6 separate regions of the Homo sapiens genome follow, and regions 1, 2, 3, 4 and 6 are each reported to be linked to region 5. The links are microRNA targets in miRTarBase. Many come from high-throughput screens and were not tested one by one. Region 5 holds a microRNA gene; each other region holds the end of a gene's coding sequence. Distances are between the middles of the regions.
Evidence for each region. The annotated mature microRNA hsa-miR-6761-5p reads UCUGAGAGAGCUCGAUGGCAG and lies in region 5 at 2,343-2,363, opposite strand. An mRNA with a match to its seed (bases 2 to 7 or 8) in the 3' UTR can be bound and repressed. Matches are read on the target gene's strand: a 7mer-m8 pairs with bases 2 to 8, a 7mer-A1 pairs with bases 2 to 7 and ends in A, and an 8mer does both.

Region 1: the mRNA of DCTN3 is a reported target of hsa-miR-6761-5p. The part of its 3' UTR that is shown has no 7-base or 8-base seed match.
Region 2: the mRNA of LAMTOR1 is a reported target of hsa-miR-6761-5p. The part of its 3' UTR that is shown has no 7-base or 8-base seed match.
Region 3: miRTarBase lists SLC2A14 as a target of hsa-miR-6761-5p. Seed matches in the 3' UTR shown: 7mer-A1 at 1,564-1,570 and 7mer-A1 at 2,337-2,343.
Region 4: miRTarBase lists OTUD1 as a target of hsa-miR-6761-5p. Seed matches in the 3' UTR shown: 7mer-A1 at 968-974 and 7mer-m8 at 1,620-1,626.
Region 6: miRTarBase lists IRAK2 as a target of hsa-miR-6761-5p. Seed matches in the 3' UTR shown: 7mer-m8 at 3,285-3,291.

Annotation. Positions count from the first base shown.
Region 1 is chr9:34,609,296-34,614,390 of GRCh38, reverse strand. It overlaps DCTN3 (dynactin subunit 3), which reads left to right. Exons shown (of 7, transcript NM_007234.5): 6 at 290-349; 7 at 520-845. The coding sequence ends at 609. It overlaps RPP25L (ribonuclease P/MRP subunit p25 like), which reads left to right and starts at 2,294. Exons shown (of 2, transcript NM_148178.3): 1 at 2,294-2,327; 2 at 3,059-3,896. The coding sequence starts at 3,095. The coding sequence ends at 3,586. RefSeq lists enhancers at 1,493-1,542, 1,670-1,719, 2,823-3,376 and a silencer at 2,120-2,359.
Region 2 is chr11:72,093,681-72,098,680 of GRCh38, reverse strand. LAMTOR1 (late endosomal/lysosomal adaptor, MAPK and MTOR activator 1) reads left to right here. Exons shown (of 5, transcript NM_017907.3): 4 at 266-392; 5 at 767-1,389. The coding sequence ends at 859. It overlaps LRTOMT (leucine rich transmembrane and O-methyltransferase domain containing), which reads right to left. Exons shown (of 9, transcript NM_001145310.4): 4 at 4,980-5,000; 5 at 3,585-3,733. The coding sequence starts at 3,618. LRRC51 (leucine rich repeat containing 51) reads right to left here. Exons shown (of 6, transcript NM_145309.6): 4 at 4,980-5,000; 5 at 3,585-3,733; 6 at 1,786-3,302. The coding sequence ends at 3,161. Among named protein-coding and RNA genes, the nearest start is that of LAMTOR1, 7.1 kb to the left of the region's middle.
Region 3 is chr12:7,810,025-7,815,142 of GRCh38, reverse strand. It overlaps SLC2A14 (solute carrier family 2 member 14), which reads left to right. Exons shown (of 11, transcript NM_001286234.2): 11 at 609-2,629. The coding sequence ends at 827. Among named protein-coding and RNA genes, the nearest start is that of NANOG, 23 kb to the right of the region's middle.
Region 4 is chr10:23,440,087-23,445,204 of GRCh38, forward strand. It overlaps OTUD1 (OTU deubiquitinase 1), which reads left to right. Exons shown (of 1, transcript NM_001145373.3): 1 at 1-2,291. The coding sequence ends at 817. Among named protein-coding and RNA genes, the nearest start is that of OTUD1, 3.6 kb to the left of the region's middle. RefSeq lists a silencer at 1-207.
Region 5 is chr12:111,797,084-111,802,201 of GRCh38, reverse strand. It overlaps MIR6761 (microRNA 6761), which reads right to left and starts at 2,368; the gene lies at 2,297-2,368. It overlaps ALDH2 (aldehyde dehydrogenase 2 family member), which reads right to left. Exons shown (of 13, transcript NM_000690.4): 10 at 3,960-4,124; 11 at 2,139-2,296.
Region 6 is chr3:10,241,296-10,246,413 of GRCh38, reverse strand. It overlaps IRAK2 (interleukin 1 receptor associated kinase 2), which reads right to left. Exons shown (of 13, transcript NM_001570.4): 13 at 2,669-4,298. The coding sequence ends at 4,186. Among named protein-coding and RNA genes, the nearest start is that of TATDN2, 4.6 kb to the left of the region's middle. RefSeq lists a silencer at 3,789-3,858.

The DNA of each region.
Region 1 (5,095 bases), not on the chromosome of region 5:
TAAAGTTCAAAGAGAGTTCAGAAATAAGGACAGAAGAAGAGACATACACTAGGGGGAATGTTTACTTAATGTATGGCCACTCCCTTTTCCATCCGTCTTTGGACTGCTGTTAGGGCACCCATCCTGGAGCCTGAAAGTGCTCCCATAGCCATTTGCTCCTTTGGCTTTGGGGTTAAGCGTCATCTTTTTTAGGCTCCATGGGGAGTGGGAGTCCGTGATGAGGCAGGAAGTTTAGTGGAAGATGTGGGCTTTGCCCAGTTCCTTTCTGTGCTACACTTTGGCCCTACAGGACCAGTGTGTGGAAATCACTGAGGAGTCCAAGGCTCTCCTGGAGGAATACAACAAGACTGTATCCTTTCTGCTCAACTAGGACCCTAATGGGTGCTGTCCCTAAGCCCTGTCCTTTTGTTCCACCTCTAGCTCTCTCTCATCCTATCCTACCCACCTATGTTTGCCTGTTCCCCACTTTCCATGAACTTCCTCACTCAGATTCCTATTCTCACCTTGACCTACAACCAGACAATGCTTCTCTCCAAGCAATTCGTGCAGTGGGATGAGCTACTTTGCCAGCTAGAGGCCGCCACGCAAGTGAAGCCAGCAGAGGAGTGATAGCTGCTCCCCATCCCAAAGTGGGCCTGGGCAGTCAGGCTCCAGGGCCCTATGCCAACCTGCCTTTGTTACAAGGCAGAGGAAGCTTTGTATTTATTGGCTTCAAGGCCCACCTCTCTGTACTCTGGGCTCTAAAGTTGGAGGTCAGGTTACCTGAGGTTTGCAATTTGCAACACCCACCCTCCCCCCAATCAGTGTTCTTATTTCAGTGACAATAAACCATAGAGATGACTGGAGGAGTGTGCTGGCTTCTTGGTCTAGGATGGAGGTGGTAGGGGGCAGAGGTGTCAGCCTGCCTAATCGTTTGACTGGGAACTAAACTCATCCTGGTCTGGCTTTCTGGCAGGTGTAGAGCTCTCAAAATGAAGGCTCTCATTTGATTATGTGAATAGGATATTCCTTTATGTATCCATTTATCCCACATTTACCAATAAGAGACCTCCAAATGTCAGATGATGGGAGTAGATAGGGCTAATCCCTGCCCTGCACGGGCTAGCAGGATAGACAGTAAAGGAAAAGGGCAGTCCTATCAGGTGGACACAGAAGAAAAAAGGGACTGAAGGGACCTGGTAAGTGATATCCAGGGACTTTCAGAGCCAAGGGAGCAGCATGTGCAAAGGCCTTTAAATTTCTCTCTTGGGAGCCTACCTGCTGCCACGAGCCGAGAAGGGCAGCCTAAGAGGTTTGGATGCAGGAAGTTTTGGTCCTGGGGAGGGGAAGTTGGGAAGTAGGGGCGCTGGGGCAAGCATGTTGAGAAACAGATTGGCACCGTAGTCCACCAAATGTTTGCTGCCCCCTTGTGGTCTCAGGGAGTGCTCTGGCTCCAGACCCTTTTTCCAACGGCCCATTGGCCGCCCCGCCTTTGCGACCTCTCCGGCACCTCAAATTCAGCGTGTCCAAACCGATCTGAAACCTGGGAGTCACCCTAGATCGGAATTTCCTACTTCTCCGTCCAAACAGTGGCCAACTCGTCACTGAACCTACTAGTATCTCCCAACTTAATCTTTTTTCCATTCCCACCGCGATTTCTCTGGTTCATTAATGTAACAAATCATTTAACAAATATTGAGCGCCGGTCATACGCCAGGCACCATACTAGGCTCCGTGGGCACCCCCGCCCCCTCAGCCCCCAGACTCCGCGGCAGGTGTCGTCAGGGGCTGTGGCCCGATTTCCCCACCACTCCCTCCTCGGCTCCCTGCACAAGATCTGGTTCGACTGGCCCCTGGAAAACCCGGAAAACCCCCGTGGTCCGCCAGCGCCCACAGGATGAGGTCGAAGCTCAGAAGTCGGTAACTAAGGCTCTCGCCCATGCAACAGCAGCCACTACAAACTGAAGCCTTTGTTCGCACCCACGGTGAAACCCACAGCTCCCCGTTTGCTCAACAGCTAACGCCAGCCCTCCCATCTTCTAAGGGCCAGATCCCCCTCCTTCAGACGCAGGACTTCCCCGACGGCCGCTCCTTTCTACCGCAGGGAACTGTCCTGCCTCCCTCCGGGGCGTAACAGCGGAGGCTGCGCTCGTGTTCCCATCCCCGCTGGGACTGGTCCGGGGCGCTCTGGCCAGCGGGTTGTTTCCGCGGCGGAGATGCCTCGGGGCCCGTCCCTCACGCCCCGCCCCTCACGCCCCGCCCCCTCGGGGCGTGCGCGGCCCCGCGGCCTTAGTGCGCTCCGGGCCCGCGCGCCATCTTGGCTCCGGATCGTGCGTGAGGCGGCTTCGGTGAGAGCCGGAACCGGGCGGGCAGAGGGGCGCTCGTAGGGTTGGGGGACGCCTGTGGCTTGGCTGCAGCGGCCGGCAAGACCCTGGAAGAGACCGTGGCTATGGAAACGGCCAAGGCTGTCTTGGAATGTCCTGAGCAGCCCTCCGAGTCGAGCCTCTGCCCCCGAGTTTCTGAGTGACCTGGGTTGATATAGATTGACCTTGGTAATCTCTGGGAGAGGGGATCCGTTCTGTTTGGGGGCAGCACTGGATAAGGGTTCTTGGCTGTTTCCCGGGGGGCCTGGGGCGAAGGGCCTTGTCCCTGTCCTTGTAGAGCCCCAAGTGAGGAGCGCTCTCTATTGGTATTAGTCTGGGGTGAGGGTTCCAGGCCCTGTTCCAAGGAGCCCAGGATAAGGGGGGCTAAGCCCCAGTCCTGGAGAGTTTAGGATGAGGGGGCCTGGCACTTTCCCAAAGAGCTCAGTGTTTGGGGAATGTGATCCTGCCTCTTGGACTCCAGGATTGGAGGTGGGGGTGTTATGGCCCTTGTAGAGGAACGGGGTGTATGGGGTACAGCCCTTTCCCAGACTGCGGCAGGCATGGACCTTGTCACGAGATGCTAAGGACAAGGGGACATGATCCTGTTTCTGGGAAGTCTGGAACGGGGAGCAGGGCCATATCCTGGATGGAGATAGGGGATGGTGGACAGTGACTTGGGGCACATTGCTTAGCACTTACCTGATGCTTCCCTGCAGTGGGCAGCGAGAGTCACAGACAAGACAGCAAGCAGGATGGAGCACTACCGGAAAGCTGGCTCTGTAGAGCTCCCAGCGCCTTCCCCAATGCCCCAGCTACCTCCTGATACCCTTGAGATGCGGGTCCGAGATGGCAGCAAAATTCGCAACCTGCTGGGGTTGGCTCTGGGTCGGTTGGAGGGCGGCAGTGCTCGGCATGTAGTGTTCTCAGGTTCTGGCAGGGCTGCAGGAAAGGCTGTCAGCTGCGCTGAGATTGTCAAGCGGCGGGTCCCAGGCCTGCACCAGCTCACCAAGCTACGTTTCCTTCAGACTGAGGACAGCTGGGTCCCAGCCTCACCTGACACAGGGCTAGACCCCCTCACAGTGCGCCGCCATGTGCCTGCAGTGTGGGTGCTGCTCAGCCGGGACCCCCTGGACCCCAATGAGTGTGGTTACCAACCCCCAGGAGCACCCCCTGGCCTGGGTTCCATGCCCAGCTCCAGCTGTGGCCCTCGTTCCCGAAGAAGGGCTCGAGACACCCGATCGTGAAGACCTGCTGAGCCAGCCTGTTCTCCGGGCCTGAATGTCTGGGGTGCTTGTGCCTTTTCTGAGAAGCGTTGTGACTGCTCAACATCCCCATCAAGGTTTGAGTCCACAAAAGTGGACCTCCCTATCATGCTTCCCCTTCCCTCTAGCATGTGGGAAGGGACTGCTGTGAAGAATGACAGATGTGGGGCCTCTGCCAAGTTCTGCATTGCTAAATAAGGGCTTCCTCTGCCTTCTACCTACAGTGCATTTGAACTGCCTTCTGAAAGAGGTCCAGGGAGGGATTTAGGAAATAAAGTTTCTACCTATTTGATGAGCCTCTACTCAGCCTGCTATGTGGAGTGGGATTAAAGAAATGGGAGTCCCCGCCCTTACCCCGGGGGGCTGATCGGGTGAAGACAGAGGAAGAGTAGTAGGCTCAGGCCGGTGCTGGGAGAATATAGTGTCTACAAGAAGCCTCAGTCAGTACTGAATATATCTAATTCCCTGGATAGTTATTTGCCCCTGCTTTGGCCTGGTTTAGGAACACTGCCAGGTCAGACATTTCTCTCCATCTGCAGCATACAGTATAGTATAGTGGTTGTGAGCATGGACTCTGGTACCAACCTGCCTGGGTTTCAATCCTGGTCTGCCACTTATTAGCAAGTTACTGCTCTGTGCCTTAGTGGTCTTATCCATAAAACAGGAATACGATAGTGTTTATCACATAGGATTGTTATGAGATTACATAAGGAAATATACATATATGACATTTAGATACCACACTGGCACATAGTGCTATTAAGTGTTAATTGCTATTATCGTTATTAATGACTTACCTATCCCAAATGCAACAACTGTCTCACACCTCCTTCCCTCCAGCTTCCTTGCCCCAATCTCAGCTATGGAGCTGGACTCTGCTTTGAAGAGACAGAGGCCTTTCGAACTCCCTCATGTTCCATCTTCACCTCCAGACCTGTCTGTATACACATTTATCCTCAACTCCACTAGTTTGCAAACATGCTTTTTCCTGTCTTAGAATCATATCTTTGGGTTGGGCACAGTGGCTGATGCCTGTAATCCCAGCACTTTGGGAGGCTGAGGCAGGAGGATTGCTTGATCCCAGGAGTTGGAGACCAGCCTGGGCAACATAGTAGGGAGACCCTGTCTCTACAAAAACATCTAAAAATTAGCTAGGCATAGTGGTGTGCACCTTTAGTCCCAGCTACTTGGGAGGCTGAGGCAAGAGGATCGCTTGAGCCCGGGAGGTTGAGGCTGCAGTGAGCCATGATTGTGCTACTGTACTTCGGCCTGGATGACAGAGTGAGACCCTGTCTCAAAAACAGAAAACAGGCTGGGCGCAGTGGCTCACACCTGTAGTCCCAGCACTTTGGGAGGCCAAGACGAGTGGATCACTTGAGGTCAAGACCAGCCTGGTCAACTTGGTGAAGCCCCATCTCTACTAAAAATACAAGAAATTAGCTGGGCGTGGTGGTGCATGCCTGGAATCCCAGTTACTTGGGAGGCTGAGGC
Region 2 (5,000 bases), not on the chromosome of region 5:
TGGTGCAGCCCTGGAGACTGACCACAGATCACTTGGGTGCTTCAGTAGTTATTCATGTCAGCCCTGTTTACCCTGTGACACTCTTGAGGGCGCTGAGGCCAAGGGAGATGGGCCTAGATTGAGTCTGTGATGAGCTGAGACCTTCCCTCCCAGATACCCCTCCTCGACACCCTGCTTCTCTGGCCTGAGGGGATGAGGCTTACCTGGGCTGGGCAGGGCAGACTGTGGCTTAACTGCCTACCCCCACCCCCTCTCTCTTGGTCAGCACCCGCTTGGCTGTGCTGAGCAGCAGCCTGACCCATTGGAAGAAGCTGCCACCGCTGCCGTCTCTTACCAGCCAGCCCCACCAAGTGCTGGCCAGTGAGCCCATCCCGTTCTCTGATTTGCAGCAGGTGAGACACCCCTCACCTGCCCCTGCCCACCCTTCTCACACTGCCCAGGGTATGGCAGAGGGTTCACCCACTCTGCCTCAGAGGAGGTAGGGAAGGTGGAGTTAGGGAGCCTGGTAGCCTTGTAGGCCCCAGCTCCCTCCCACCTCGTTCTCTTAACTTTTTATGTCTTTCCTATCTCCTTCCTGCAACCTTTATTGTTTCACTCCCCTTTGTTCTTTTCCTTCTGTCTCTCCCATCCCTGTCTTTCTCTTTGCCTTCCTGTTCCCCTTCATTCCCTCCTTCTCCATCACCATCTAATCTCCCCTCCCCATTTTTCCTGATTGCCCTCCTCACCTGTCTCTGTTCCTCTCCTCCCCGGCCCCTCTCTGTCTCAGGTCTCCAGGATAGCTGCTTATGCCTACAGTGCACTTTCTCAGATCCGTGTGGACGCAAAAGAGGAGCTGGTTGTACAGTTTGGGATCCCATGAAGAGAGGGGTCCTTGGACAGCTCTTCTCCTCTCTTCATCCCATCTCTACCCCACCCCCTTGGCCCCCAGCCTCACTGCGGCTTATACAGTACCCTAACCTGCTACTAATCACAGAGAAAAATGTGAAGAAGGAGGAGAAGAGGAAGGCTAGAAGCCTGAGCAAGTGAGGGTAGAACCTTTTGGGACTGGCCTTTGAAGCTCTGGCCAGGGATGGGGTGGGGGCCAAAAGGACAGAGCCTGGTATGTCTTCATAGTCATTGAGAATGTGGAGATACCAGTTTGGGTGGGGGGTGATCACCAGGGGACCTAGGGAGATCCCCTTCCCACCCTCTCTGTTGGCCTCAGAGTCACTCCTGCCCCCTCTCCCTGACTTGGTGCTCACATGCACCTCACTAGGGTTTGTGACCAGGGTCTGGATGAGCTTGAATTTGAATGAATTGAGTTTGTATTTCTAGAACCCTGGGTTTTTACATGTTTGGTCTTTTTTTGTTTTGGTTTGTCACCCTCGATAAAGGAAGTATATTCATCCATGTGCTGGTTCTGGCCCCTCTGTTCTACCCATTCTACTTTTGATTACTTAGGTCTATGAGAGTAAGATGGGGGGAAGGGGACATCTTCCAGGGATATTGAAGATGAACCCAAGAGACAAGGGTTTAGGGTGTCAGCTCTTAGCTGAGACCTGGCTTGGGCTAACCTCAGACTGGATGAGACTGTTCTTGTCCCTTGTCCAGTGATGATGGGAACACTGTCAAAGCTGAACAGACCTGAATCTGAGGCAGCTTTGATTCTTGGGGGCCCTGCCTCAGACTCAATGGAATTACCAACAGCCCCTGGGGGTGAAGGGAGACATGGCGGGTTGGGGGGTGGAGAGAGAAAGCAGACCAGGCTCTTCTGGGAATACCTAATATGGAGTCAGCAAGCAAATGTTTTTAAGCAGAAGATTCTTTTTATCAAATGAAATCTTAAGCAGAATCCCAGCATATAAAACAGAATGGAATTACTTTGATCTGATTGAAGTGGGGGCTGGTTTCAGAGATCATAGGCCATCTTCTTGGCCTGTCATGGAGGCCTGTGAGGCATCTCTACAGACCCTGGTACTCTGTGAAGAGTTTGGAAATTACTGATCTACTTTAACCCCCAAATCTCTAAGCTGAAAAGTACAAAGGGGCCCAGAGAGTTAGATAAATTTCCCAAGGCTGTGTGGTAAACCCACGTCTCCAGTGTCCCAGGCCAGCAGGCCTTTCCCTCAATTGCCTCCCTTTTTCAGCAAAATAAGACTAGAGCTGGCCAGGTGCAGTGGCTTATCCTGTAATCCTAGCACTTTGGGAGGCTGAGGTGGGCAGATCACCTGAGGTCAGGAGTTTGAGACCAGCCTGGCCAACATGGCGAAACCCCATCTCTACTAAAAATACAAAAAAAGGCTGGGCGTGGTGGCTCACGCTTCTAATCCCAGCACTTTGGGAGGCCAAAGCAGACGGATCACCTGAGGTCAGGAGTTCAAGACCAGCCTGGCCAACATGGCGAAACCTTGTCTCTACTAAAATATAAAAAATTAGCTGGGGGAAGCCGAGGTGGGTGGATCACAAGGTCAGGAGATGGAGACCATCCTGGCTAACATGGTGAAACCCCGTCTCTACTAAAAATACAAAAAATTAGCCAGGCGTGGTAGTAGGTGCCTATAGTCCCAGCTACTTGGGAGGCTGAGGCAGGAGAATGGCGTGAACCTGGAAGGCGGAGTTTGCAGTGAGCCGAGATCGTGCCACTGCACTCCAGCCTGGGTGACAGAGCGAGACTCCGTCTCAAAAAAAAAAATTAGCTGGATGTGGTAGCAGGCGCCTGTAATCCCAGCTACTCAGGAGGCTGAGGCAGGAGAATCGCTTGAACCCAGCAGGCGGAGGTTGCAGTGAGCTGAGATCGCACCACTGCACTCCAGCTGGGGTGACGAGTGAAACCGTCTCAAAACAACAACAACAACAACAAAATTAGCCAGTCATGGTGGCAGGCGCCTTTAATCACAGCTACTGGGGAGGCTGAGGCAGGAGAATCTCTTGAACCTGGGAGGCTGAGGTTGCAGTGAGCCAAGATCGTGCCACTGCACTCCAGCCTGTGTGACAGAGTGAGACTCCGTCTCAAAAAAAAAAAAAAGAAAAGAAAAGGCTAGAGCTACTTGCAGTTGCCTGAGTTAGAGAACATCTCTACAAGGTGTAAGTGACTTCTCATCTGCTCAACAGCTCAAATTATTTATTGTCAAACCATGCTGTCTATGCTTAGGCCTTTAGGACTACTAGGGTCGTGGGAGCCTCAAAGTGTATTCTGCTTGGTCCAGGCCTTCTTGGGCTTGATGTTCATGCGTTTCCAGACTTCAGCTGTGGTGCGGTCTGCTTTGGTGACCCCACTGAAGTCGAACGTGGTGATACGGGACAGGGTGCACAGCACATATTGCCTGTGGGGAAGACTTAGGCTGGGGGCCAGCACCCCCACCAGAATCCCCTTCCCCCTCCACTAGTTGCTGTTGTCTTCCCTGACTGCAAGGAATGGAGGGACTTGAGCATAGTTTGGGAAAGATTAGGTTTATCCTGACTGAGAGCAAGGAATGCTTAGAGGTCTGTTACTCCCTTCCCAGGTCCAAGCATGGCAGAAGAATGGTCGTAGATTTCTTGTTTCTCCTCCTCCTTTCCTTTAGGGGAGCCCAGCTAGACGCTACCTCCAGGGGCAGGGCACTTACCTATACCCTTTCTCTTCCTCCATGGGGTTCCCATGGAGTGTCAGGCTACGGAGCCGAGGAAGGACAGCCAGCTTATTCACCTCCCCCAGGCGCTGGATGCTGTTGCCGTGAAGATAGAGGACACTCAGGTTGAAGAAAGTTGTTAGGACCTGTTGGGGAGGGAAACCAAAAGCCAGGCTAGACAGGACAGGACCCTGAATCTCTGCTCAGGGCTGACTCGTGGGCAGAGAAGGAAGAATGTGGGGAACAACCTGCCCTCCACTCCAACCCTCCACAGCCATACTGTATGACTGTAACCTACTTTTATTTATGTTTTAAGACATACAGGGCATCACACTGAAAAGGAGCTGTGATCTGAGGGTCAGGAGTGTGGGCCTGGGTACCAGCACTGCCACTGACTTGCCTCTCTCAGCCTTAGTTGCCCCTTCACTGAAGACCTTTCCAGCTTTGGTGATCTACGATTCTATCACAGCAAGCAACAGGAAGACAGAGCATCATGCTAGGCACATAAGAAGCTTTTAAAATACTGGTTAAATTGAGATCACCACACCAGGGGAATAGTGTCCAAGTCATGCTCCAGCTCCTTTCCCCTCTTAGGGATCTTGGACTAGAAAAGGCCAAACTTTATTTCTTAAAACTTGAATCTGAGTTCACAGAAAGTAAGTGCTGTACTTTATTGACTACCTCTTCCACAGGAGAACCCAGCACAGGTCACAGTGGGTGCGCAGTGACAGTTAGAATTTTACTTCAGCCTCTGATGTACCAGTTGTTTGTTGGTTTTCATGTATTTTCTTTTCTTTTTTTTTTTTTTTGAGACGGAGTCTCACTCTGTTGCCAGGCTGGAGTACAGTGGCGCAATCTCGGCTCACTGCAACCTCTGCCTCCTGGGTTCAAGTGATTCTCCTGCCTCAGCCTCCCGAGTAGCTGGGACTACAGGCGCCCGCCACCACGCCCAGCTAATTTTTTGTATTTTTAGTAGAGGCGGGGTTTCACCATGTTGGCCAGGATGGTCTTGATCTCTCTTGACCTTGTGATCCACCCACCTCGGCCTCCCAAAGTGCTGGGATTACAGGCGTGAGCCGCTGTGCCCGGTGGTTTTCATGTATTTTCATTCAATCCTCACAAAACCTTTATGATACTGGCATATTATCCCCATTTTTCCGACAGGGAGGCTGCAGTTTTGAGAGGTTAGGTAGCTTGCTCAAAGTCACAGTCAGTAAGAGGCAAACCCAGGATTTGAACCTACATCTATCTGTCTGGCCCCCTAGCCTTGTGCTTTGGACTGTACCATGCTGCCTCATTACTTCCTTGATAACATGTAGGAGTGGAGAGGTTGGGGGCTGAACAAAGTGGCTTCAGGCTCCCCTGACTGGATTCCTACTGTTAGGAACTCACAGGGTCAATGGAAGTCAGGTC
Region 3 (5,118 bases), 100 Mb from region 5:
CACCACACCCAGCTCAGCAACACAGATTTTAAAAATAATACTCAAGGCCAGGTGCAGTGGCTCACGCCTGTAATCCCAGCACTTTGGGAGGCCAAGGCAGGCAGATTACAAGGTCAGGAGTTTGAGACCAGCCTGGCCAATATGGTGAAACCCCATCTCTGCTAAAAATACAAAAATTAGCCAGGCGTGCTGGTGGGCACCTGTAGTCCCAGCTACTCAGGAGGCTGAGACAGGAGAATCGCTTGAACCCAAGAGGAGGAGGTTGCAGTGAGCCGAGATCCTGCCATTGCGCTCCAGCCTGGGTGACAGAGTGAGACTCCATCTCCAAATAATAATAATAATAATAATACTCAAAAGTCCAAAAATACTCAGTAGACATTTGGAAGCATCTAACTTTAATGAAAAAAAATGACAGAAAGAAAAATACAGAGAAATATAGTAAGTTAGCAATAGAATCATAAGTAAATCTCTGAAGAAACCTTTATGTTTTCATTAAATATGGAAGGGTTATAGCTTGAAGCCTATTGGAAATATGAATGTGAAGGAAATTGTATTTGTCAATGACCAGATTTTTATATCAACCTTCCTTTTTTCTGTCCTTTCACTAGTACTATTTAGGAGCCTACGTTTTTATTATCTTCACCGGCTTCCTCATTACCTTCTTGGCCTTTACCTTCTTCAAAGTCCCTGAGACCCGTGGCAGGACTTTTGAGGATATCACACGGGCCTTTGAAGGGCAGGCACACGGTGCAGATAGATCTGGGAAGGACGGCGTCATGGGGATGAACAGCATCGAGCCTGCTAAGGAGACCACCACCAATGTCTAAGTCATGCCTCCTTCCACCTCCCTCCCGGCATGGGAAAGCCACCTCTCCCTCAACAAGGGAGAGACTTTATCAGGATGAACCCAGGACTGCTTCTGAATGCTGCTACTTGATTTCTTTCTCATCCCACGCACTCCATGAGCACCCCAAGGCTGCAGTTTGTTGGATCTTCAATGGCTTTTTAAATTTTATTTCCTGGACATCCTCTTCTGCTTAGGAGAGACCGAGTGAACCTACCTTCATTTCAGGAGGGATTGGCCGCTTGGCACATGACAACTTTGCCAGCTTTTCCTCCCTTGGGTTCTGATATTGCCGCACTAGAGGATATAGGAGAGGAAAAGTAAGGTGCAGTTGCCCCAACCTCAGACTTACCAGGAAGCAGATACATATGAGTGTGGAAGCCGGAGGGTGTTTATGTAAGAGCACCTTCCTCACTTCCATACAGCTCTACGCGGCAAATTAACTTGAGTTTTATTTATCTTATCCTCTGGTTTAATTACATAAATATTTATTTTTTAAGTGTAATTTTGCCAAATAATAAAAACAGAAGGAAATTGAGATTAGAGGGAGGTGTTTAAAGAGAGGTTATAGAGTAAAAGATTTGATGCTGGAGAGGTTAAGGTGCAATAAGAATTCAGGGAGAAATGTTGTTCATTATTGGAGGGTAAATGATGTGGTGCCTGAGGTCTGTACATTACCTCTTAACAATTTCTGTCCTTCAGATGGAAACTCTTTGATTTCTCAGAAAAGTTGTATGCCTATTTAATAAAGCTACTCATTTCCTTTGGAACTTTATCTTTAAGATAATAGTTTACATGTAGTAGTACTTGAAATCTAGGATTATTAACTAATATGGGCATTGTAGTTAATGGCGGTTGATGGGTTCTAATTTTGGATGGAGTCCAGGGAAGAGAAAGTGATTTCTAGAAAGCCTGTTCCCCTCACTGGACGAAATAACTCCTTGTAGTAGTCTCATTACTTTTGAAGTAATCCCGCCACCTATCTAGTGGGAGAGCCATCCAAATGAGAAACCTAAAATAATTGGTTCTTGGTAGAGATTCATTATTTCTCCACTTTGTTCTTTAGGAGATTTTAGGTGTTGATTTTCTGTTTTATTTTAACTCATACCTTTAAAGGAATTCCCCAAAGAATGTTTACAGCAAACTTGGAATTTGTAACCTCAGCTCTGGGAGAGGATTTTTTTCTGAGCGATTATTATCTAAAGTGTGTTGTTGCTTTAGGCTCACGGCACGCTTGCGTATGTCTGTTACCATGTCACTGTGGTCCTATGCCGAATGCCCTCAGGGGACTTGAATCTTTCCAATAAACCAGGTTTAGACAGTATGAGTCAATGTGCAGTGCAGCCCACACTTGAGAGGATGAATGTATGTGCACTGTCACTTTGCTCTGGGTGGAAGTATGTTATTGTTGACTTATTTTCTCTGTGTTTGTTCCTACAGCCCCTTTTTCATATGTTGCTCAGTCTCCCTTTCCCTTCTTGGTGCTTACACATCTCAGACCCTTTAGCCAAACCCTTGCCAGTGACAGTATTTTGGTTCTCAGTTCTCACTGTTCCCTCTGCTCCTGGAGCCTTTGAATAAAAATGCACGTAGCTATGGAGTGGGGTTTAGCTGGAAAGGTGGCCTTCCAACTTCACGTCAACTTCTGGCTCCTCAGTTTGGCAGTAAGGCAGGGAAGTTGTTTTCCTATTTCTCACTGAGAAGATTGTGAATATTTCCATATGGATTTTCCATTATTGTTTGTTTGATTCTTTGTTTTAAAATAAAAATTCTGAATGTACATGACATCACAAGCACATTATTTATTTATTTTTTGCCGTTCCTGTAACAACAAAATCAGCTTTAAATCCTGAGTTGGCTACTCAGTACCTGTTGTGACCTTGAGACTTGTATGAGACTCTGTTCTTAGAGTCTCATACATAAGAGAATAGCAATATTTGGCCGGGCCCGGTGGCTCATGTCTGTAATCCCAGCACTTTGGGAGGCAAAGGAGGGCGGATCACCTGAGATCGGGAGTTTGGGACCACCTGGCCAATATGGTGAAACCCTGTCTGTACTAAAAATACAAAAATTAGCCTGGCGTGGTGGCAGGTGCCTATAATCCCAGCTACTTGGGAGGCTGAGGCAGGAGAATCGCTTGAACCCAGGAGGCAGAGGTTGCAGTGAGCCAAGATTGCGCCATTGCACTCCAGCCTGGGGGACGAGAGTGAGACTTTGTCTCAAAAAAAAAAAGAGAATAGCAATATGTGTTTATTATGCAGATTAAGTGAAAAAGCCTTCGTGCCTTGCTTTTCATACTTGATGAATTATGTTGCTTTCTTTCCCCAGTGAGAACTAGTTTTTTTTTTTTTCTGTTTTTCTCGTGTTCCTTTCCACTTCCTTCCTCCTCCAGTCTTTGCTCTCTACAATTCATCCCACACTGCTGTCAGGGCATCCATGTGACATACAGCAGTCCCTTGCCATCCCCAGGGGACTGGTTCCCAGACCCCTTCTTAGATAACAAAATTCAGGGATACTCAAGTCCCTTATATAAAATGCATATAGTCTGGGTGCAGTGGCTTATGCCTGTAATCCCAGAACTTTGCGAGGCCAAGACGGGCAGATCACGAGGTCAAGAGATCCAGACCATCTTGGCCAACATGGTGAAACCCCATCTCTACTAAAAATACAAAACTTAGCTGGGTGTGGTGGCATGCACCTGTAGTCCCAGTTACTCAGGAGGCTGAGGCAGGAGAATCCTTTGAACCTGGGAGGCGGAGTTTGCAGTGAGCTGAGATCACGCCACTGCACTCCAGCCTGGTGACAGAGCAAGACTTGGTCTCAAAAAAAAATGCATATAATTATTATTGTGATGATTTAAATGCAAATAATCTATGCACATCATCTCATGCACTTTAAATCATCTCTAGATTACTTTTAATACCTAATACAATGTAAATAATTGTTAAACTGTATTGTTTTTTATAGTTGTATTGTCTTTTTTCCCAAATATTTTCCATCTGTAGTTCTTTGCATCTGCAGATACAGAAGTCGGACTGTATATCACTATCCTACTTAAAATCCTTCGGCCGGGCGCAGTGGCTCACACCTGTAATCCCAGCAATTTGGGAGGCTGAGGCGGGCGGATCACAAGGTCAGGAGATCGAGACCATCCTGGCTAACACGGTGAAACCCCGTCTCTACTAAAAATACAAAAAAAAAATTAGTGGGGCATGCGGCGGGCGCCTGTAGTCCCAGCTACTCAGGAGGCTGAGGCAGGAGAATGGAGTGAACCCGGGAGGCGGAGCTTGCAGTGAGCCGAGATCGTGCCACTGCACTCCAGCCTGGGCGACAGAGGGAGAGTCCATCTCAAAAAACAAAAGAAAACAAGCCGGGCATGGTGGCACATGCCTGTAGTCCCAGCTACTTGGGAGGTTGAGGTGGGAGAATCACCTGAGTCCAGGCGATTGAGTCTGCAATGAGCCAAGATCGCACCACTGCACTCCAGCCTGAGTGACAGAGTCCCTATCTCAAAAAACAAAAAAAGTATATTATACTAAAATTTGTCTTCCCAAGGATTATAATTGTTTTTTATCGGAGGAGGGGAACAGGATATCACTGTATTGCCCGGGCTATTCTCCTGGGCTCAAGCAACTGTCCGGCTTCAGCCTCCTGACTAGCTTGGACTTCAGATTCGAGCGACCAAGCCTTTCACATTACAATTGTTTTTTTAATTAATTAACTATTTATTTATTTGAGATGGAGTCTTTCTCAGTTGCCCAGGCTGCAGTGCAATGGTGTGATCTCGGCTCACTGCAACCTTAGTCTTCAGGGATCAAGTAATTCTCCCGCCTCAGCCTCCCCAGTAGCTGGGAGTACAGGCACACACTGTCATGCCTGGCTATTTTTGTAGTATTGTAGAGACGGGGTTTCACCATGTTGGCCAGGCTGGTCTTGAACACCTGAGCTCAACTGATCCGCCCACCTCGGCCTCCCAAAGTGCTGGGATTACAGGCGTGAGCCACCGCGCCCGGCCAATTGTTTTTTTATTATTGAAAGGTAGGAACACTGAGAAAAGCAGGGAAAGAGTAGGACCTTCCTGGTAGGAGCAGAAACCCATAAACTTAGACAGGGTAAAGCCTGATAAATCCTACAGTCAGGCCAGGGGCAGTGGCTCACGCCTGTAATCCCAGCATTTTGAGAGGCCAAGGTGGACGGATCACTTGTGCCCAGGAGTTCTAGAGCAGCCTGGCTCACATGGAAAAACCTCATCTCTACTAAAAACACAAAAATTA
Region 4 (5,118 bases), not on the chromosome of region 5:
CGCGGCGACCCCGGGGAGCCCCGATCCCGGCCCCGGTCCGTGGGGCGAAGAGCACTTGGCGGAGAGGGGCCCCAGGGGCTGGGAGAGGGGCGGCGATCGCTGCGACGCGCCCGGTGGGGACGCGGCGCGGAGGCCCGACCCAGAGGCCGAGGCACCCCCCGCCGGGAGCATCGAGGCCGCCCCGAGTAGTGCGGCGGAGCCGGTGATCGTCTCCAGGTCGGATCCCAGAGACGAGAAGCTGGCCCTATACCTGGCCGAGGTGGAGAAGCAGGACAAGTATCTGCGGCAGAGGAATAAGTACCGATTCCACATCATTCCAGACGGCAACTGCCTCTACCGAGCTGTCAGCAAGACGGTGTATGGGGACCAGAGCCTGCACCGGGAGTTGAGGGAGCAGACGGTGCACTACATCGCCGACCATCTCGACCACTTCAGCCCCCTGATTGAGGGCGACGTGGGGGAGTTTATCATCGCTGCTGCCCAAGACGGGGCATGGGCCGGGTACCCGGAGTTGCTGGCCATGGGGCAGATGCTGAATGTGAATATCCATTTAACTACTGGAGGGAGGCTGGAGAGTCCCACGGTGTCTACCATGATTCATTATTTGGGCCCAGAGGATTCCCTGAGGCCTAGTATTTGGCTCAGTTGGCTCAGTAACGGACACTATGATGCTGTATTTGATCACTCCTATCCTAACCCAGAGTACGACAACTGGTGCAAACAAACTCAAGTGCAAAGGAAACGCGACGAAGAACTTGCCAAATCTATGGCCATATCCTTGTCTAAAATGTATATTGAACAAAATGCATGCTCTTGAAATGTCTCAAAACCTTACACCCTGGGAATAATTGCATATATAACTTGTGTTTGGAGAATCACATGAACTTTAATCAGGGTAATAGCACTTTCAAACTTGCTAGTAGATTTTACTGTAGGTGTAATGCCTTAATCATCTTTTTGAATGTTTTCTCAGAGCTGGAGGTTGCTGGGCACCTAAATGATGTTTCATGATAGCTTTGGGTGATTTTACTGCTATTTATAATTTGCTGTATAAAGTGAGCATTACTTAATTTGCAAGCTGATTTCTCACAGTGTAAATTTGTTCATTCCTGGTAGTCTATTTTCTATAAAAATGTATTTTTGCACAACATTTTTAAAAACTGGTGTACCTTCATCTATGACGTGTTCCATTTTGACAAACAGCTTTCAGGCGTAAATCCAGAGAAGTGCTTTATATGAAATGTATTATTTTGAACAGAGTTTGTGATTTGGTAGTTATTTTATGTTGTTGAAATTTGAATTTCACAATTCTTAGATAATTATTTCAAATGGATATTGATGCATTCTTGTTACCAGATGTTTGGCCCATTCCATTTTGATGAAACAGAGCTGTTGTTTTGGAAGTCATTATTTTTCTAGAAATGGCGAATCTTTTAAAGAAAATTACTTAATGGAAGGTTGTGGGAAGGTGTTTTTTTGTGTTTTTTTTTTGGTTTTTGTTTTGTTTTTCCTCTTTTAAGGGATAGTAGCAGGTCTTACTTGAATGAAAGTCTGATATTTGCTGATGGCAGAATGATTATTCTGTACCCTGGTTGATGTGTAGAGTAGATTGTCTGGTGCTCTCAGTTGTTTTTATTTACATTTGTCACGTTGTTGTAAGAGAATGTTAACATGGTATAAAACTCTGTGACAAGATAAGCCTCCTGCTTTATATAACTTCTTGAATCCAGCTAAGAGATTTATAAACTAATGGCATAAATGTCTGGAGCCAACCTTGGCAGTTATAGCAGGAGAACACTGTCTTAATATTTCTTTACATTCTTTCAAAAGGCAAAATAGGATTGCCCTGTATTGATGTAGAAATGTCTGTAAACAGAGCTTGTATGGTTTGCTGGGTCAAACAATGTTTCCAACTTAAAATCAATCTCATTGCCACTTTAACTACTTTTAGTCATATTTATTAAGTAATGCAGTTTGTACTTTTTTTATTTTGTAACATTTTGTGATTTTTTTGTACAAAACTGTATTTGTACAATAGAGCAATTCCCAGCTGATGGAATGAATGAATAAAATGCAAAATTATACTTTTACAATGCCTTTTTGGATAGAGTGGTTTTTAAATTGTGATGTTTGTAGGAAACTTTCTTGCATGTATGCATGTACACAATTTTTTTTTTCCATAAAGATGCCACAGCAATAGAGAGGTTTCCTAAATTATCACATGAAGAGGATAGGCTAATCATGAGTAATTTCAAAGGATAAGTCTGAATAAAATATAATTTAAAAGTGGAGTAATCCAAGAAATTGCTCTCATTATTTCTAATTATAATTTCTGTCTACAGTTATAGCTGTACCTATTGGCTAATGAAAAAGGAAGTGCAAGTTTTGTGTCAGCCAGCAGAATGTCTAATTAAATGTCATACTTTTGTATTCCACTCACTCTCAGTATAGAGTTTAACGTTTTAGAGAGTAACCAAAGAGATGCCCTAATTTTTGTCTAGTCTGGCCTCTTGAGACCACGGGAATCTGTTTTAAGATGTTGAAAAGTGCATGCTATAGTTTGAATATATGTGTCCCACCACCCCAAATTCATGTGTTCGTCCCCATTATGGTGGTATTAAGAGGTTGGGCTTTTGGGGAAGTGATTTAAGGCATGAGCGCTCTGTCTTCATGAATGAATTAGTTGCCTTTTATAAAAAGGTCTGGAAGCAACTAGCTTAGGCCCATTTTGCTGTTCTGTTGTTCTGCCACAGGAGGACACCTAGATGGTGTCATCTGTGAGGAAGGGGCCTCCGCCTGATGTGGAACCTGCGAGCACCTTGATCTTGGGCTTCCCAGCCAACAGACTGTGAGAAATACAAATTTCTGTTCTTTATAAATTATAGGTATTTTGTTGCAGTAGCACAAATGGACTAAGTTGGTGCACCTGTGTGCATAATGTTGGGGTATGTGTAATGCATAAGAAAAGCAGCTATTTTGGATATTTTACTTTTCAGTTATTTAGACATCACAGTCATAGACACAACTGAACTTGATTGAGTTCATTGGTTAACCACATTCTTGGAAGGATGCCGTTGAATATCAAGGAAAGAATTTGTCAACGGTTTAAATGTTTACTAATCACAGATCTCTGGATTTTTGTGTAGGTAAGTTTTGCTTCATGGCTTCAGTAAGTAATTTGGGAAGAAAGAAATTCTATTATTTGAATTACCTGGCTACCCCTTTTCTCCACTTTATTTAGAGCTGTATAACATTTGGAGATGCTTAAAATTTTATACAAGTATGAGTAGAACACACAAGAATTCCTAAAAAGCCTTCTGTAAGCCTATTACTGTTTTAGGTAGCTTACTCTGTGTTCTGTTTCATTTTCAAATTAGGATTCCAAGTCCTGATTTCTTTTCTTTTTTCTTACGTTTTTATTGAGACAGGGTCTCCCTCTGTCACCTAGGCTAGAGTGCAATGGCACAGTCATGGCTCACTGCAGCCTCAACCTCAGAGCTCAAGTGATTCTCCCGAATACCTCAGCCTCCTAAGTAACTGGGGCTACAACGGTCGTCCAGCATCACACCCAGCTAATTTTTAAAAAAATTTTTTAGTAGAGATGTAGTCTCACTATGTTGCCTAGGCTGGTCTTAAATTCCTGAGCTTAAGTGATCCTCCTGCCTCAGCCTCCCAAGGTGGTGGGATTACAGGCATAAGTCACCCTGCCCAGTCCTGTTTTTAAATTTAATTTTAACATTTTGTTTATTATTTTTGAGACAGGGTGTTGTCGTGTCCCCCAGGCTGGAGTGCAGTGGCACAATCATGGCTTACTGCAGCCTCTACCTCCTGGGCTCAAGTTAGCCTCTCACCTTGGCTGCTGAGTAGCTGGGACTATAAGCATGTACCACCATGCTCAGCTAATTTTTTATTATTCATAGAGGTCGGTGGGGCGGGGGTTCGCCCTGTGTTGCCCAGGCTGGTCTTGAACTCCTGGCCTCAGGCAATCCTCCCACCTCAGCCTCCCAAAGTGCTGGGATTACAGGTGTGAATCACACACTCAGCCTTGAAAAAGAAAATCTGGAGATAATTTCATTACTTTGTTCAAGTTTATCTTATGTGCTTTTCCTAAAAAAAAAGTTATACAATTTTTTTCCAAGTTTTGCATTTTGAGAATCATTAGCACTTTACCATGACATTTAGTGCTCATGTGGAAGAAAGGCATTAGGGAAGAAAAATAGATTGTAATCCTTTGGACGTTTGATAATTTGATATGTAGGTAAATGTACTGGATAAATTCAAGTATGTAGCATGTTCACATTAAATAGTTATTTGTTACATCCTAAGTTCAGATGTCATTTTTTTGTACATCCCTAGAATGTCTATCTCAAAGAGGCACTGAGAAACTAGATGACATTTAATTCAGTTTGATTTCCCAAATTTACTAAGCTCAATAGGCACATTCCCTGTTGAATCCCTGGGTTCAAACCCAAGTACCTAGCAGAGCGAGTGCTCAGTAAATTGCTTTTTTCTTTTTTTTTTTTTAGACAGAGTCTTGCTTTGTCGCCCAACCTGGAGTGCAATTGTGTGGTCTTGGCTCAGTGCAACCTCCACCTCCCGGGTTCAAGCAGTTCTCCTGCCTCAGCCTCCCGAGTAGCTGGGATTACAGGTGCCTGCCACCATGCCCAAGTAATTTTTTGTATTTTTATTTATTATTTATTTATTTATTTATTTGAGATGGAGTCTCGCTCTCACCCAGGCTGGAGTGCAGTGGCATGATCTTGGCTCACTGCAACCTCCGCCTCCCGAGTTCAAGTGATTCTCCTGCCTCAGCCTCCTGAATAGCTGAGACTACACGTGCGTGCCACCACGCCCAGCTAATTTTTTTTTTGTATTTTTAGTACAGATGGGGTTTCACCATGTCAGTCAGGATGGTCTCGATACCCTGACCTCGTGATCCGCCTGCCTTGGCCTCCCAAAGTGCTGGGATTACAGACGTGAGCCACTGTGACTGGCCTTGTATTTTTAATATTAGAGACGAGGTTTTGCCATGTTGTTCAGGCTGGTCTCCAACTCCTGACCTTGAGTGATCCACCCACCTCGGCCTCCCAAAGTGCTGGGATTGCAGGCATGAGTCGC
Region 5 (5,118 bases):
GACATCATGTTCCACCTACTTCGGACTCCCAAAGTGCTGGGATTACAGGTGTGAACCACCACGGCCTTACAGGTGTGAGCCACCAGGCCCAGGCCTAATTTTTGTATTTTTAGTAGAGACGGGGTTTCACCACATTGGCCAAGATGGTCTCCATCTCCTGATCTCGTGATCCGTCTACCTTGGCCTCCCAAAGTGCTGGGATTACAGGGGTGAGCCACTGCACCCAGCCTAAAATTCACCATTTTAAAGTGTACAATCACTGGTTGACAGCATATTCACAGTGTTGTGTGACCATCACCACTGTCTAATTGCAGAACATTTCTATCACACTGAAAGAAGCCCTGTGCCCAGGAGGCAGGCACTCTCCATTCCTCCCTCCCCCAGCCCCTGGCAACCACTAACATACTTTCTATCTCTATGGATTCGCCTATTCTAGATATTTATAATACTGTAAATGGAATCACACAGCATGTGGCCTTTTGTGCCTGGGTTCTTTTTTTTTTTTTTTGGAGTCTCACTCTATCGCTCAGGCTGGAGCGCAGTGGCATGATCTCCACTCACTGCAATCTCCGCCTCCCAGGTTCAAGCGATTCTCCTGCCTCAGCCTCCCGAGTAGCTGGGACTACAGGCACCTGCCACCACAGCCAGCTAAGTTTTGTGTTTTTAGTAGAGATAAGGTTTCACCATGTTGGCCAGGCTGGTCTCAAACTCTTGACCTCAAGTGACCTACCCACCTCGGCTTCCCAAAGTGCTGGGATTACAGGCATGAGCCACCGCACCCAGACAGTCTGGGTTCTTTCACTCAATGTTATGTTCAAGATTAATCCATGCTATTGCATGCATGGCTACTGATATGGCTTGGCTTTGTCCCCACCCAAATCTCATCTTGAATTGTAGCTCCCACAATTCCCACGTGTTGTGGGAGGTAATTGAATCATGGGGCCAGGTCTTTCCCATGCTATTCTTGTGACAGTGAGTAAGTCTCACAAGATCTGATGGTTTTATAAAGGGGAGTTTCCCTGCACAAGTTCTCTTCTCTTGTCTGCCACCACGTGAGACATGCTTTTCACCTTTCACCATGATTGTGAGGCCTCCCCAGCCACGTGGAACTGTGTGAGTCCATTAAACCTCTTTCCTTTATAAATTACCCGGTCTCTGCAATGTCTTTACCAGCAGTGTGAGAACAGACTCATACAGCTACTTCATTCCTTTCTGTGGCTGAGCCACATTTCATTGCATGGACAGATCACATTCTGTATCCATTCATCTACAGACGGACATTTGGGTTGTGTTCACCTTTTGGCTGTTACAAATAATGCTGCTGTGAAGATTCATATACACGTTTTTATGTGGGAGCACGTTTTTCTTTCTCTTGGATAAATACCTAGGAGTGGAATTGCTGGGTCATATGGGGGCTTCATGTTTAACTTTTTGAGGAGCTCCCAAATTATTTTCCACAATGAGTGTGCCATTTTCCATTCCCATCAGCAACATAGGAGGGTTCCGATTTCTCCACATCCTTACCAATACTTTAAAATATATATACATATAGCCCAGCCTGGGCAACATGGCGAGATCTCATCTCTACAAAAAATAAAAATGTTTTTTAATTGTCCAGGTGTGGTGGTACACACCTGTGGTCCCAGCTACTCAGGAGGCAGAGGTGGGAGGATTGCTTGAGCCCAGGAGTTCAAGGCTGCAGTGAGCTATAATCGCACCCCACAGCACTTCAGCCTGGGTAGAATATTTTTTTCTGTCTGAAAAAATAAAACTAAAAATAAATAAATAATAAAAATATAGCCATCCTAGTGGGGGCTAAGTGTGAAGCAGAGGCTAAGCTTTTAGGATCAGTGTCACAATCATGGGTCCCTCTGCTCTGGTCTCCTGCCCTGAGGCAGCTGGGGAGGAGCCCCACCACTCCGCTGCCTGCCAAGTTCAGGTGCAGGGCCTTTGCACCACAGAGAAGCTTGATCCTTCGGAGGTGAGGTAGCAGGACCTCTCAAATCGACATCACACCCTGACCCAGGAGAAACTGAGCCCAGCTCCCCAAATTCCAGGATGGTGACCACCAGATTCCAGTAGGCCCTGGCTTTGAGGAATCTCTGTTGGGTTGTGAGGGGCTGCTGGGAGGCTCTTACCACACAGTGCCCGCCTGGAGGGCCTGGGACAGGTAATTGGCCTTGTCCAAATCCTTTGTGAAGACAGCTGCGGCCAGCCCGTACGTGGAATTGTTGGCTCTCCCAACAACCTCCTCTATGGTCTTGAACTTCAGGATCTGCATCACTGGCCCGAAGATCTGGAGTGAGAGAGCAGCGTAGGAGGGTTCGGCAACACGGAGGCACCTGCCATCGAGCTCTCTCAGAGCAGAACAGATGATTCCAGATTGGGGGATAAGCCCCCAGCCATGCTCTAACAGTTCCAGGGGAAGACAACAGCCATCAAGCTCAGCAGAACACAGAGGGAATGGAGCTAACAGGGGCCAACTTCCTCCTGTGCGCCCCGGGCTTTACATACAGTATCCCATTTCTAAACAATCCTGCCAGGTATGTTATTCACACGTGACACGTAGATTTAGTGTCAAAGAATTTAAGTCAGCTGGGCATTGTGGCTCATGCCTGTAATCCCAGCACTTTGGGAGGCCAAGGTGGGAGAACTGCTTGAGTCTAGGAGTTCGAGTCCAGCCTGGCAAACACAGAGAGACCCTGTCTTTACTCAAAAAAAAAAAAAAAATTTTTGGCCAGGCACGATGGCTCACACCTGTAATCCCAGCATTTTGGGAGGCTGAGGCAGGTGGATCACCTGAGGTCAGGAGTTGGAGACAAGCCTGGCCAACATGGTGAAACCCCATCTCTACTGAAAATAAGAAAAATTAGCTGGGCGTGGTGGTGTGCGCCTGTAATCCCAGCTACTAGTAGGGTCTGAGGCAGGAGAATCGCTTGAACCCGGGAGGCAGAGGTTGCAGTGAGCTGAGATTGCACCACTGCACTCCAGCCTGGCGACAGAGTGAGACTCCATCTCAAAACGAGAAGAGAAAAAATAAGCCGGGCGTGGTGGCTCATGCCTGTAATCCCAGCACTTTGGGAGGCCGAGGCAGGCAGATCACGAAGTCAGGAGTTCGAGACTAGTCTGATCAACATGGTGAAACCCTGTCTTTACTAAAAATACAAAAATTAGCCAGGCGTGGCTAAAACTGGAGACAGAGTCCCGCTCTGTTGCCTAGGCTGGAGTGCAGTGGCGCGATCTCGGCTCACTGAAACCTCTGCCTCCCAGGTTCAAGCGATTCTCCTGCCTCAGCCTCCAGAGTAGCTGGGATTTCAAGCAAGCGCCACCACGCAGGGCTAATTTTTTCTTATTTTTAATACAGACAGGGTTTTGCCATGTTGGCCAGGCTGGTCTCGAACTCATGACCTCAGGTGATCCACCCACTTCGGCCTCCCAAAGTGTTGGGATTACAGGCGTGAGCAACTGCACCCAGCCTGTACTAAAAAATTTTTTTAAAATTAGCCAGGCATGGTGGTGAGCACCTGTAGTCCCAGCTACTCAGAAGGCTGAGGTGGGAGGATCATTTGAGCCCAAGAGTTCAAGGCTATAAGGAGCCATGATTATGCCACTGCACTCCAGCCTGGGCAACAGAGCAAGAATCTGACTGAAAGAAAAAAGGTCATGGGAAGGAGCAGACAATGTCATTCCTAGACTCCTGGCTCTGAGGGCCAGGACACCAAGGCCTGCAGGCCATGCTGAGGAATGCAGACGATCTCCCAGACAGAGGGTACAAGCTGAAGAGGAGGGACAAGATCAGATACATACTATGAATAGCGTGTTATGGGCACTGGTTCTGGGTATAACTTGAGATCTGGCCCCAAGCCAGCAGATGGGTGACAGCATCAGGATGCCAGGCTGAACTGTTTACCTCACCTCCCGCCAAGAATGTTTCCAGAGCACTGGCCCCAAGTGCTCACCTCCTCCTTGGCGATGGTCATGCCATCCTGCACATCTCCAAACACAGTGGGCTGGATGAAGTAACCACGGTCAGCAGCAATGCCCCCACCACACAGCAGCTTCGCCCCCTCTTGCTTCCCCGTGTTGATGTAGCCGAGGATCTTCTTAAACTGAGTTTCATCCACCTGTGGGAGAAGGAACCCAGAGTTATGGAGACATCGGATTCAGACCTCTCCTAGGCTTCAGGCTTAGAATTATGCAGGCAACAAGACAACTGGGAAATGGACCAAGGTCATAAGAAAGCAAGATCAGAAGAGGAAACACACAGGGCCAATAGCAGAAAACACAAAAAAGGCCCAACTTCCTCAGCCTACCGGAGAAAAGGACATCAAATCAATCTTTACTTTTCAACTATAAGATTACCAAAAAGTTTAGGAAGAAAATACACTGATAGCAAGAGACCGTTACATATACTGTTAGAAGGATGACAGACTGGTACAGCCTTTAGAGCAAGTGGTTTATTAATATTGCTCAAAAATTATATACTCAGATCCTTTGGCCCAGCTATTTAACTTCTAGGAATTTATTCTACATATGCACAAAGAGAAATGAACAAGGATATTCACTAGGGAGTATTTTTTTTTTTTTGTATTTTTGTTTTTGAGATGGGGTCTCACTCTGTCACCCAGGCTGGAGTGCAGTGGTGCGATCTCCACTCACTGTAACCTCTGCCTCTCATGCTCAAATGATCCTCCCACCTCAGCCTCCCGAGTAGCTGGGACTATAGGCATGCACCCCTACGCTGGGCTAATTTTTGTATTTTTAGTAGAGACAGGGTTTTGCCTTGTAGCCCAGGCTGGGGGAGCATTTTGTAAAGGCAAAAGATGGAAACAATTCTAAGTATAAATCAGTAGAGGGGTTGGTTAAAATTATTACGGTGCATCCAGTATATTGTCATCACTAATAGATCTGTGAACTAACTGACACAGAAAGATGGCCCAAGATACTCTGTAAAAAGAAGGAAAGCTTGGGCCAGGGGCAGTGGCTCACGCCTGTAATCTCGGCACTTTGGGAGGACGAGGCAGGCAGATCATGAGGTCAGGAGTTCAAGACTAGCCTGGCCAACATAGTGAAACCCCGTCTCTACTAAAAATACAAAAATTAGCTGGGCATGGTGGC
Region 6 (5,118 bases), not on the chromosome of region 5:
GGCATTGTCTGTAGTAGCTAGAATGAAAACAAAACCTCAATCTCTATCAGCTGGTTATATACATTAAGGAATATCCATACAATGGAATGTAAGGCAAAAAGAATGAAGTGATCTAAACTTACTGTTGAGGAGCAATAGCCAAGAAAGACATGAAAAAACAAAGGACCTAGAAAAGCATTAACAAAACACATGTGTGGCTAAATAGAGAGGAGTGGCATACAAAGGTAAATGTGGCTTTCTTTTTTCAAATGCCTGAGGGTAACCACTTTGTGTGTTCCTTTCTAACAGCTTTAAGATATAATTTATATACCATAAAGTTCACTCATTTAAAGTGTATGAGCAGCAGGCATGGTGGCTCACGCCTGTAATCCCAGCAATTTGGGAGGCCAAGGTGGGCAGATCACAAGGTCAGGAGTTCAAGACCAGCCTCAACAATATGGTGAAACCCCATCTCTACTAAAAAGAAATACAAAAATTAGTAGGGCATGGTGGCATGTGCCTGTAATCCCAGCTATTCAGGAGGCTGAGGCAGTAGAATCGCTTGAATCTGGAAGGCAGAGGTTGCAATGAGCCAATATCGTGCCATTGCACTCCAGCCTAGGCAACAGAGGGAGACTCTGTCTCAAAACAAAAAAGAAGAAAGAAAACAGGTGTATGACCAGCTGGCCTGGTGGCTCACTCCTGTAATTTCAGCAAGACTGTAATCTAGTTTGTCTTGATAGATTTGCCTATTCTGAAAAAATTAAAAATGGAATCATACAATATGTGACTTGCTTTTTCTTACCATGATCTCAAGGTTCATCCATGTTGTAACGTGTCAGTATGTTTGAAATGCTTGTTCCCCAGTGCCATAAAGAAATAGCACTTGAACATAAATAATTTTCTCAGCAAGGCCATTTTTACACTTTCTGCAGAAAGGGTACACTCGCCAGCAGTTTTGCCACGAGTACACCCAACAAAGGAGACAGGGTCATTTATAACCTGACGTATCCACCCTACCTCTGGGTCCAGTTTCCATTGGCTGAAACGGGACTTCACATTCTGTATTTGTCTTGATTGGCTAACAACTTAGAATTTTTTCAGAGGCAAAAGCAGAGGAGAACAAAGGAAGGAGGAAGTAACTTGTGGAATGCTGAGAAAGGTAAAAACACTTTCAAATAAGGAAGAGGAACAGGCTATGACTTAATGCTTGCTTGCACCAGTATAACCGTGCCAGGGCAAATATTTAGGCTAAATTGTGGGAGTTAAGAACATAAAGTACATTGATTTATTATGGCTAGCAGGTATTTAAGAATGTTAGGTCTTTGAATAAATTTTGCTTCTAAGAGAAGTTACTATTTATTCCTAATTAGATGGGGAGGAAAGTCTTTGAAGAGGAACCTCTACTTTACTTTTCACAAGTACTTAATTCTTTTCTATGGCTGAATATTCCATTGCATGAATAGACCGCATTTCATGTATCCACTTATCAGTTGATGGATATTTAGGTTGTTCCTATTTTTTGGCTGTTATAAACATTGGTGTGCAGGCTTTTGTGTGGACATGTTTTCATTTCTCTTGGGTAGATACCTAGGGGTAGAATTGCTAGGTCATATGGAAATTCTTACCTTTTGAGGAAGTGCCAAACTGTTTTCCAAAGTGCTCACCATTTTCAATTCCCACCAACAGTGTGTGTGGGCTCCAATTTCTCCACATCATGGCCAACACTTGTTTTTGTCTTTTTGATTATAGCTATCCTAGTGAATGTGAAGTGGCATCTCATAGAGGTCTTGATTTGCATTTCCCTGATGACTAAGTTGAGCATCACCTCTGTTTTCCATCACCTCTGGAAGGATACTCCAACCTAGTGACAGTGGTTGCCTTTGGGAACAAGAAACTGGAGACTAAGATCCCATTGAGAAAAAGCCTGCCTTCTCACCATGGAACCTTTGTACTGTTTAGATTTTTAAATCCTCTATTAACCTAAAAAAAAATAATTCAGGGCTTCCCTACGGGGGATCCATGAAAAGACATCATGGTGCCCATGAAGGTCTGGAATTCATGGACTCAGAACGCATATGTATGTATGTCTGTATGTAGCAAAGGTCTAGAGCTTTCATCCAAGTCCCAAGGGGATTTACTGACTTCTCCAAAAATATATGAAATCCTAGTCTAGAAATGTAAGTATGTCTGGATAACCACAAACCTATTGGTGTCAGCCCTCTATTGCGCAAACAGCCCTGGAAACACTCTGCTTATAATTGTAAAGTGTTCGCAACAGGCCAGGTCCCATTTGGGGCACAAAATGCACATTCACCTTGAATCCTCACAGACACCAGAGCTGAAGACAGGGCTGTCTGTATAGATCACTGTCCACCTGGACTGGGACCCAGCTCAGCTACATCACACATCAAGCCAAAGCTGTCCTTACTGGGGAGCTGCCAAATGTTTCACCAGGCAGGACCCATCCAACAACAACCCTACAAGATGCGTACGTTTTCTTTTTCCCATTGTACAGATGAGGAAACAGAGCCTCAGAGTAACTCCCTAACTGGGCCCAAGATCATGCAGCTATTAACAGTCAACAGTAAGAGCCAGGATCCTAGCTCTTTGCTACCCCATCTCAAGGATACAGAGTGCCTTCTCTAAACAAATTCTTCCAGACACAAAACTAATTACAAGTTGTCTGTCGACTTTACAAATATATTTTTATTATATAAAAAGAAATTACTATAGATTACTTTAAATAGGATATTTCTCCCAGTGAATTTAAAATAGCATCTGTTTCACAGAAAGATTTGCAACATGACTTTTCAGATATATACGCACTGAATAATCATTAGGTACATGGCAGAAATACACATTTAATACCTTTTTATTTTACAAAACAGGACAAGTGCATTTTCCAAGTGCTTCTATAGCCACTGTCTCATCTGTTCCTCCCAACAGCCCAGGGATGAAGAACAAGCAGGTGTTATTTTACTTACAAAGAAACTGAGGTCCCAAAAATTAAATGATTGACTTAATTAGCAGCAGAATCAGACATGAAATGCATTCTCCTGATTCTTCATAATCCAGTCATAAATAACAACACATATTCTCGGCCGGGTGCGGTGGCTCAAGCCTGTAATCCCAACACTTTGATAGGCCAAGGCGGGCAGATCACGAGGTCAGTAGTTCGAGACCAGCCTGGCCAATATGGTGAAACCCTGTCTCTACTAAAAACACAAAAATTAGCCAGGCATAGTGGCAGGTGCCTACAGTCCCATCTACTCAGGAGGCTGAGGCAGGAGAATCACTTGAACCTGAGAGGCAGAGCTTGCAGTGAGCTGAGATCGTGCCACTGCACTCCAGCCTGGGTGACAAAGTGAGACTCTGTCTCAAAAAACAAACAAACAGACAAACACATATTCTCAGAATAAAAGCTCCATTAAAAAACACTAACATTAGTGGGATGGGAAGATAAAGGTACCAGGCAGTGACTGAATAATTATGTGAATTGCAAGATTTCCAATACAGGCAGTGGAAAGCCTGCAGAGCTCTTCGCTAGGTGTCTGGCATTTGTAGAACCTGAGGCCCAGAGAGGTGAGTCAAGAACTGCACTGAGACACAAGTTGAAAGTCTTCCAGGCCAGGCACAGTGGCTCCCAACTGTAATTCCAGCACTTTGGGAGTCTGAGGTGGGAGGATTGCGCCAACAAAGCGAGACCCCATCTCTACAAAAAAATTAAAAACTAAAAAAAATCTTTCAGAGCATGCAAGCTTGCAGGCTGTCAGCAAATACAACCCAGAGATCTTAGCTCTGGAAAATGCTATGGCATTGCAGAACTGCCAGTGGCGGGGGAACAAGAGCTGCTGAGGTAATGGAATCTGCTGGGGGTGATTATCATCACATACTCCCCGGAACCACAAAATCAGCCACATCCTGGGCCCGTGTGCAGGGTTTCTGCTTCAGTCTCCTCTGATCCCCTGCTCTGACTAACAAAGCCCAGAAAGGAAGAGACTTCATGGATTTTTGTGTCTCTAAAAGCTGAGGGCCTTTCTCTCCCAACTCATTCCAGTGAAATGAAGTTTCCCTCCCACCCAGGACAGCAGATGTTTTGTTGTGTGTTTCCTGGCAGATCTTGGATTCTGCCTCAGACCTTTTTCTTGATCTGATGCTCATCTTTCCAACTGAGGACAAGGGTCCTCAGCTGTGTTCCGGTCATCAGGGGCCAAAGAGCTCAATGCTGTCCACTTTTTCCTCTTTGTAGAGCAGAATATTCTCCATCAGTTTCCTTTTGGCCTCATTGATCTCAATTTGCCACGAAGTTTCTGTAACTGATGTTCAACAGAAAGCAAACAAGAGCGACTTGAATGAAAGTTACTATTATTATAATTCTTAAAGTCACTTAAATCAGGTTTCTGAATCAGGCCCTGAGTGTAATGAGCATTTCTTTTTTTTTTTTTCTTTTTTTTTTATCGAGACAGGGTCTCACTTTGTTGCCCAGGCTGGAGTGCAGTGGCACAATTTCAGCTCAAGGCAACCTTGACCTCACAGGTTCAGGTGATCCTCCCACCTCAGTCTCCGGAGTAGCAGGGACTACAGGCGTGCACAACCACACCTGGCTTTTTTTTTTTTTTTTTTTTTTTTTGAGATGGAGTCTCACTCTGTTGCTCAGGCTGGACGACACACACAGTTAATTTTTTTGTGTTTTAGTAGAGAAGGGGTTTCACCGTGTTGCCCAGACTAGGCTTGAACTCCTGAGCTCAGGCAACCCACCCGCCTCGGCCTCCCGAAGTCCTAGGATTACAGACAGGCGTGAGCCACCACGCCCGGCCTGTGAGCCACAGCACCCAGCCCATTTATTTATTTATTTATTTATTTATCATTTGTTGAGATGGAGTCTCACTCTGTTGCCCAGGCTGGAGTGCAGTGGCTCAATCTCGGCTCACTGCAACCTCTGCCTCCTGGGTTCAAGCAATTCTCCTGACTTAGCCTCCTGAGTAGCTGGGATTATAGGCGCCCACCACCACGCCCAACTAATTTTTTGTATTTTTAGTAGAGACGGGGTTTCACCATCTTAGCCAGGATGGTCTCGATCTCCTGACCTCGTGATCCGCCCGCCTCAGCCTCCCAAAGTGTTAGGATTACAGGCGT